Homo sapiens: one gene and its partner. The protein of the gene in region 1 binds, or shares a complex with, the protein of each later gene. Each region holds a gene or a part of one and is shown in the gene's direction. Other genes may lie near its edges. The genes, in order: SGF29 and MBIP.

What was found.
Region 2: SGF29 (region 1) and MBIP share a complex: the UniProt entries of both Homo sapiens proteins name them as parts of the ADA2A-containing complex.

The regions. Positions count from the first base shown.
Region 1 is NC_000016.10:28,581,130-28,584,953, forward strand, and holds part of SGF29 (SAGA-associated factor 29), read left to right. Parts: coding exon 1-15; intron 16-3,783; coding exon 3,784-3,824. UniProt on the Homo sapiens protein: Chromatin reader component of some histone acetyltransferase (HAT) SAGA-type complexes like the TFTC-HAT, ATAC or STAGA complexes.
Region 2 is NC_000014.9:36,313,906-36,317,729, reverse strand, and holds part of MBIP (MAP3K12-binding inhibitory protein 1), read left to right. Parts: intron 1-917; coding exon 918-1,037; intron 1,038-2,814; coding exon 2,815-3,039; intron 3,040-3,121; coding exon 3,122-3,218; intron 3,219-3,824. UniProt on the Homo sapiens protein: Inhibits the MAP3K12 activity to induce the activation of the JNK/SAPK pathway. Component of the ATAC complex, a complex with histone acetyltransferase activity on histones H3 and H4.

The DNA.
Region 1 (3,824 bases):
ATCAAACAAACCCAGGTAAAAAGTCACCACCCTCCATTCCCAGATGGGAACATGGGCTTTGATGCTGAGCCGTGAAGTGGGGGTGGCATTTGTGTTCAGAGAGATTGGACTCGCAGGAACCAAAATGACGTAATAAAAGTGAAAGGAGGGGAATTTGGTGTATGGCTACCATTCCTGTTGGATTTTCTACCATGTACAGGATTTCATGATTCATTTTGTTTGACAGCTATCCTGAGATAGAATTCACATGCCATACAACGCACCCATTTAAAGTGTATAATCCAGTGGTTTTTCGCAGCTCACAAAATTGTGCAACCATTAGCACGATCAATTTCAGAACATTTTTAACACCCAACAAAAATGCCCCATATCTTTTCCTTCCACCCTATTAATCCAGGCAAACAAAAACACTCTTTTTTTTTTGGAGACGGAGTCTCACTGTGTCACCTAGGCTGGAGTGCGGTGGCGCGATCTCAGCTCACTGCAACCTCTGCCTCCTGGGTTCAAGCGATTCTTCTGCCTCAGTCTCCCTAGTAGCTGGGATTACAGGCACACACCACCATGTCCGGCTAATTGTTTTTGTATTTTTAGTAGAGACGGGGTTTTGCCATGTTGGCTGTCTCTACTAAAAATACAAAAATTAGCTAGGCTTGGTGGCGGATGCCTATAATCCCAGCTACTGGGGAGGCTGAGGCAGGAGAATCACTTGAACTCGGGAGGCAGAGGTTGCAGTGAGCCGAGATGGCGCCACTGCACTCCAGCCTGGGTGACAAAGCAAGACTCCATCTCAAAAAAAAAAAAAGCCATTTTTCCCCTATTTGATATCTTTTCTTTCACAGATACAAGGGAGATGCGTATTGGTGCCTGTAGCTCACTGCAGGCTATCGGGCATGCTCTGCCACATTTTGCCCACGATACTCAGGGTTTATAGCTACACAAGGATCAGTTTGCTGGCAGTTGTGCACCGCACAGCCAGGAAGGAGTAGATCCCAGAAATTCCTTCCCAAATGGTATTCCTTTTAGACGTAACCTGGAGAGTAAGAGTCAGAAGATGCCGGCACTCATTGCTAAGTGAAAGATGCCAGTCTGAAAGGTTACGTGCTGTGTATTCCAACTGTAAACGAAAAGCAAAACTAGAGAGTGAAAGGATGAGCGGTAGCCAGGGCCTTGGGAGAGATAGGATGAAAGGGATGGATAGGTGGAGCACAGAGGATTTTAGGGGGTGGAACTCTTCTGCAGGGTACCATGATGGGGGGCACGCAACATGATGCGTTGTCCAAACCCATAGAACGGCAGAACACACAGAGTAAACCATCATGGGGATGGATGTAGTTAATTATCTAACAGTATTGGCTCATCAGTTGTTACAAACGCACCACTCTAATGCAAGATGTTAACAATAGGGGAGACTGCGCAGGGCAGAGCAGGTATACATACAGGAACTCTGTGCCATCAGCTCAGCTTTTCTGTAAACCAAAACTGCTCTAAGAAGAGTTTATCAATAAAATACATTGTAAAATAAAGGAAAAAAGGGCTGGGCGTGGTAACTCATGCCTGTAATCCCAGCATGTTGGGAGGCTGAGGCGGGTGGATCACCTGAGGTCAGGAGTTTGAGACCAGTCTGGCCAAATGGCGAAACTCCATCTCTACTAAAAATTAGCCGGGCGTGGTGGTACATGCTTGTAATCCCAGCTACTAGGGAGGCTGAGGCAGGAGAATCGCTTGAACCTGGGAAGTGGAGGTTGCAGTGAGCCAAGATCGCACCACTGCACTCCAGCCTGGGCGACAAGAGCGAAACTCCGTCTCAAAAAAATAAATAAAGGAAAAAAAAGATACAGGCAGATTACGCATTCCATTCAGTCATCCACAGTTAGAACAGTTTATCATCATCCCATACAACCAGGGTGTCCCTCAGACAGCTGCTGCCGAGTTCCCAGACTCCCATCTCACCCGTCAGCTTCCAAAAGCAGGCGTGGTCCTGACAGACACAGGGCTTCGCCCTTTCAGGCACCCAGTGTAACTGACCTAAGAGATGGCATTCTCTCTCTCTCAGCCTCTCTTGAGGTATGAGTACAATATTGGATTTCCCTCATTGCATAACCCATTTAATTTGTTCTGTTAACTCGGCTACTGTTTCTCCTCTCCATTTGTGATTGGTTTTCACCCAAACTTTTCCACCTTTGTAAGGGATGTTAGCTTTGGCCACTGTACCTGGTCCAGATTGCAGCGGCAGCAGTACTAGTCTAGCAAGTATCCCCCCCCAACCCCAATCCATTCCCATTTATATAGGGTGGGGTTACACAGGTATGGACTATTGGCTGTCTTGAGCACTAGGCAGCTAGCTAGCTGTGTTCACTGTTAACCTCATTTTGCAGGTTGAGGTAAAGGCGCAACCCACCCATCAGGCACTTAAAAATTCTCACATAAAGGCTAAAAAGCATAGTCATAATTTCTTTCTTAGGATCTGTCTCAGTTTCCAGCATCTGCAGTTGCAGCTCTGCTCCCAGGATGACTGATATGGGAGGAATTGCACCAGCATTCTTCCCCACCCCTTCTTCTCCACATCAATTGATCATACCTGTATGTGTCTATTTCTGGACTCTGAATTCTGTTCTGTTGATCTATATGCCAGTACCACACCATCGTGATTACCGTAGCTTCGTAATAAATTTTGAAATTGGGAAGTATGAGTTCTCCAACTTTTTTTTTCTTTTTCCAAGATTGGGGATAATCTGGGTCCCGTGAATTTCCATATGAATTTTAGGATGAACTTGTCAATTTCTGCAAAGAAGTCAATTAGAATTTTGATGGGGATTGCGTTGACTGTATAGATTGATTTGTCTCTTTGATAAAGGACTATCATTAAAGATATCACTTATGATTTAACTTTAATGCCTTCTTTTTTTTTTTTTTTTAACAGTCTCACTCTGTCACCCAGGCTGGAGTGCAGTGACATGATCTCAGCTCACTGCAACCTCAGCCTCCCGAGTAGCTAGGACTATACGCACATGCTACAATGCCCGGCTAATTTTTGTATTTTTAGTAGAGGTGGGGTTTCATCATGTTGGCCAGGCTGGTCTTGAACTCCTGATCTCAAGTGATCTGCCCACTTTGGCCTTCCAAAGTGCTGGGATTACAGGCTTAAGCCACTGCACCAGGCCCTTTAAGGCCTTTTATAATGCTTTTGCATTAGTCAAAGGAGAAAATCATCTTGAACTCCTGAATTTGGATTTAGAAAATGAGGGCCATAGCCGGGCGCCCTTGCCTGTAATTCCAGCACTTTGGGAAACCGAGGCAGGTGGATCACGAGGTCAGGAGTTCAAGACCAGCCTGGCCAAGATGGCGAAACCCTGTCTCTACTAAAAATACAAAAAATTAGGCCGGGCGCATTGGCTTACGCCTGTAATCCCAGCACTTTGGGAGGCCGAGGCAGGCGGATCACGAGGTCAGGAGATCGAGACCATCCTGGCTAAGACGGTGAAACTCCGTCTCTTCTAAAACTACAAAAAATTAACCAGGCGTGGTGGCGGGCGCCTGTAGTCCCAGCTACTCGGGAGGCTGAGGCAGGAGAAAGGCGTGAACCCGGGAGGCGGAGCTTGCAGTGAGCCGAGATCGTGCCACTACACTCCAGCCTGGGCGACAGAGTGAGACTCCATCTCAAAAAAAAAAAAAAAAAAAGAAAATGAGGGCCGTATTTTGGGGATGGGGACTCTGGCCTGGCTGGCAGGGTACCACAGCAGCACAAAGGGCCACCGTCATGTCCTGCTGCTCTTTTCCTTACAGGAAGAGCGTTCGCGGAGCGAACACAACTTAGTGAACATCCA
Region 2 (3,824 bases), on another chromosome or scaffold:
GTAAACACATGTCCCTAGAAAAGTTTTTGATGGTTCACTTTTATTCATTCAAAAGACTGCAGATGGGCGCTCTCATTGTAAAATTTTCACTCATTTTGATAATAATCTTATATTCAGGTTCTTGGTAGTTTTCTGGATATGATTTTATTCTATTAGATCACCAACTGATAGAAATTTCCATATAATGAGCTGTCACATCTTAGCATTTACAAAAGATCTGGACATTTCATCCAGTCTGACAACTTATTTCACTGTGGTGGAGAAGTCTTTGTTTTTCAGCTTCAGACTTCCATTGCTAAATAATAGTTTTTTATTTGAAATAAACATGTTGCCATTTATCCCTACACTTTATATGTATGAATAATCTTGACTTTTAAATTAGTTTAAAAATCGGTTAAAAGTTAAAAAACTAAAAATGTGATTTGGAGGACATCAGAATAATGATATATTTCTGATATGTATTTGTGTACATACTTAAAGAGAAAGATGCATGTTAAAACTTTCACAAAACACTTGTACTTCCTCTGTTTAAGGCTCTGAGCTAGAAGTAGTAGGATTCTGAATAGGGCAAGCCTATATTGGACTCCATCCAAAGGTTTGTATATATTGAAGTATCAAAAGAGCCTTCATCTTTTCATCTTTCATGAATGGTTTTACCTCTAAAATGGTCCCATTACACAGACCTAAGAATAGAATTTGAACGACATGTCATTTTGTTTTTGTTTTTTTATGAAAATCTGTAGCTTTCTTGGCCTTTTGAAATGGTAACTGGGTAGAGCATTTCAGTGTATTATTAAAAACTTGATAACTTAGAGCAAAATAGACCCGTTACTCTAGAAATCTTATTTTTGTGACAATTCCATATGTAGAGCTTAATCGTGTAATTTTTGTGATGTTGCTGGTTTGCCCCTTTGAAGCTTGACCTCAGAGATGATGTGGTGAAAATTACAATCGATTGGAACAAGCTCCAGAGCCTCTCGGCATTCCAGCCTGCATTGCTCTTTAGTGCACTTGAACAACACATTTTATATTTACAGGTAAATTTCTTGTTAGAAATGATAACCCGATATTGAAAATAGAAATTGATTGTGGTTAAGTTAGTTGGAGTATTTGACAGTTCTAAACACTATATTAATAGTGTTGCTAATAAAACGTTATTTACATCCGGATTTAATCTAAATCTGTTAATTTCAGTAGTGATCAGGACAGTTAAGGGAATATAGCCCAAAAGACCAATGTGGGTATGAGTGAATGAATGCAATTCTATTCAATTCTAGACCTGCACTGAAAATTCAATACAGTTCCATCTATGGTGGGTTATAATTAAGCAATAAGACACGGCAGGTGTGTGTCATGCTATGATAATGATTCCATGCCTTGGGTGAGTTTGGAGGCTCATGGAGTGCTTTCAGTGGTTCAAGAAGGGGCATTATCCCAGCATGACACATCCTGGAGTGTCTATTGCAATTAAACAGTTTCAGCATAGTTTTTAAAAAGAAAGTAATTTCTATGACATTAATGTCTCATCTTAGTAAGTAGCCAGTCACTATTTTATCATTTCTTTTCCTTAACAGTTTGAAATAATTCATTCTTTATATTAGAAGTTAATATTGAATTGGTATTTATAATAGTGTTGTTATATTTTTAAATATTTCATGTTAATAACTGAACAGTATTATGACCTTGCTGGTTTCTAATTGAACATCTTTGCAATTATAATTGATGTAAGTTTGCAGTTTATCTCTAATCAAAGTGTAAAATGTGAAGTGTCAAAAAGATAAGTGGAAAAACTGGATTGGTCAGTTTACTGTGATTAAGGTGTTATAAGATTTCAAAAGAGTAGTATAGCGAACAATGGAAGCAAAATTGTAGGTATGAAAAAAATAATTGGAACGTTATTAGTGTTAGTGTGTTTTGACTAATGGAATAGGCATTAATTTTCAGCCCTCCATTCATTGACTTTGTGGGAAATTTTAACTGTTTCATGTTAAAAGTAATAGTTAACCCTGTTTTTAAAGGGCAGAGCAGTGAGCTCTAGAACTCAAATGAGACCTCATTGTGGGGAGTGGGGGAGGGGAACAGTAAATGAGTAATATAGTTTAAATTCTACAACAGGGGTTTTCCCCCTGTAGTATAGTGATAGGCCTCTGCCTGTTTTCAGCTATAGATCTTTTTTTTTTCTTGTTCGTTTTCTTTTTTAAAATTTAATTTTATGACCAAAAGATATCTTGCCATGTCAGGAAAAGTCTGAGTGTTCACTCAGCCTAACACCTATATATTTCATGTCTATGCTTCCTCATTCACATTGGCCAACTGCAGTTTCAAGTGGAGAATCTCCAGTGATACAGTGATAATGCAGGGCTTTGCTGAGTGAGAGCACTAGCTCTCGTGTTAAGGAGGAAAAATACTAAGCCTTAGTGTTCTGAGGAGGCATTTGAATGACATGTTAATTAAGTGGCATTGGTGCCAGAGGCTGAAGGCTTTGATTTGGCACAAAATAAAAGATGAGTGACAGAATGATTCTCTCAAAGAAAATTTTAAATTTCCTTAGGTTTTCTTTTCTTTTTTCTTTTCTTTTTTCCTCTCTCCTTTTTTAAAAAACAAATTTATAGCAAATGATAATGGTTACAATAGCAGAGAATAGTGAGTACTTATATGTGGTCAGATCTATGTGTCCTGGTATACCAACTTTTTATATTTATTAACTGATATTAAGTATTTCATTTACTTAGCAGAAATTTATGTAAATATATTAAGTGTGTAATTAATTTTGGTCAGATTGAACCTCAGCAGATGGAATTGTGTTGTTCTCAGCCTTTTTTAGCAAAACTTCAGTCTCCGATTAAAGAGGAGAATACAACTGCTGTTGAAGAGATAGGAAGAACAGAAATGGGGAACAAAAATGAAGTAAATGACAAATTTTCCATTGGCGACCTACAAGAGGAAGAAAAGCACAAAGAAAGTGATTTAAGAGATGTGAAAAAGACACAGATCCATTTTGATCCAGAAGTAGTTCAGATAAAGGCTGGAAAAGCAGAAGTAAGAAGGTTTTTTGGCGGGGGCGAGAGGGTATTATTTTAAAAAATCTTATGTTTACACTGTTAAAACTTGTTGTTTGTAGATTGACAGACGAATATCTGCATTTATTGAAAGAAAGCAAGCTGAAATCAATGAAAACAACGTCAGGGAATTTTGCAATGTTATTGATTGTAATCAAGGTAACTACCTGGAAATTAATTTTCATAGGGTTTTAAGCACAATTTTTATAGTTGCTCTAATCTTTTATTTATTTTTTAAATGAATAGCTTTTAGAACACAATTCAATTTATTTCATGGATTTAGTTAGTAATTAAGACAGTAGAGTTTCCTTCTGCTTAATAATAGACTATATTGCAAACTGGTTTTCATTTTGGTTACACAAAGTAAATGCTAACATTAAAAAGTGTTTATCACAGGTGAAGATTATTTTAAAGTTCCTTTAGGAAATGAAGGTGAGGTACGAGTGAGAAGGTTGATCTATCTCACTAGTAAAAGGAACTGAGCTCTATGAATTTCAAACCTATACATGTACTGTGAAATCATGATGTTAATACGTAAGTGAACTTAGTAAAGTTAATATTCCTCCAGAGGGAGCAGTTTTCTCACTACTCCTGAGCTGTTTGAAATGTCCTGTGTCACGATACAACCAATTTATCATGAAGACCATGGTGTCTTGCTTTTTTCCTTTCTGCCATAGTGCATACATTTGCTGTTTTTCATCTGATTCACCTTTACCTCTCTACTTGATGCTATAGTACATTTACAAATCTGCAAGTATGCTGCAG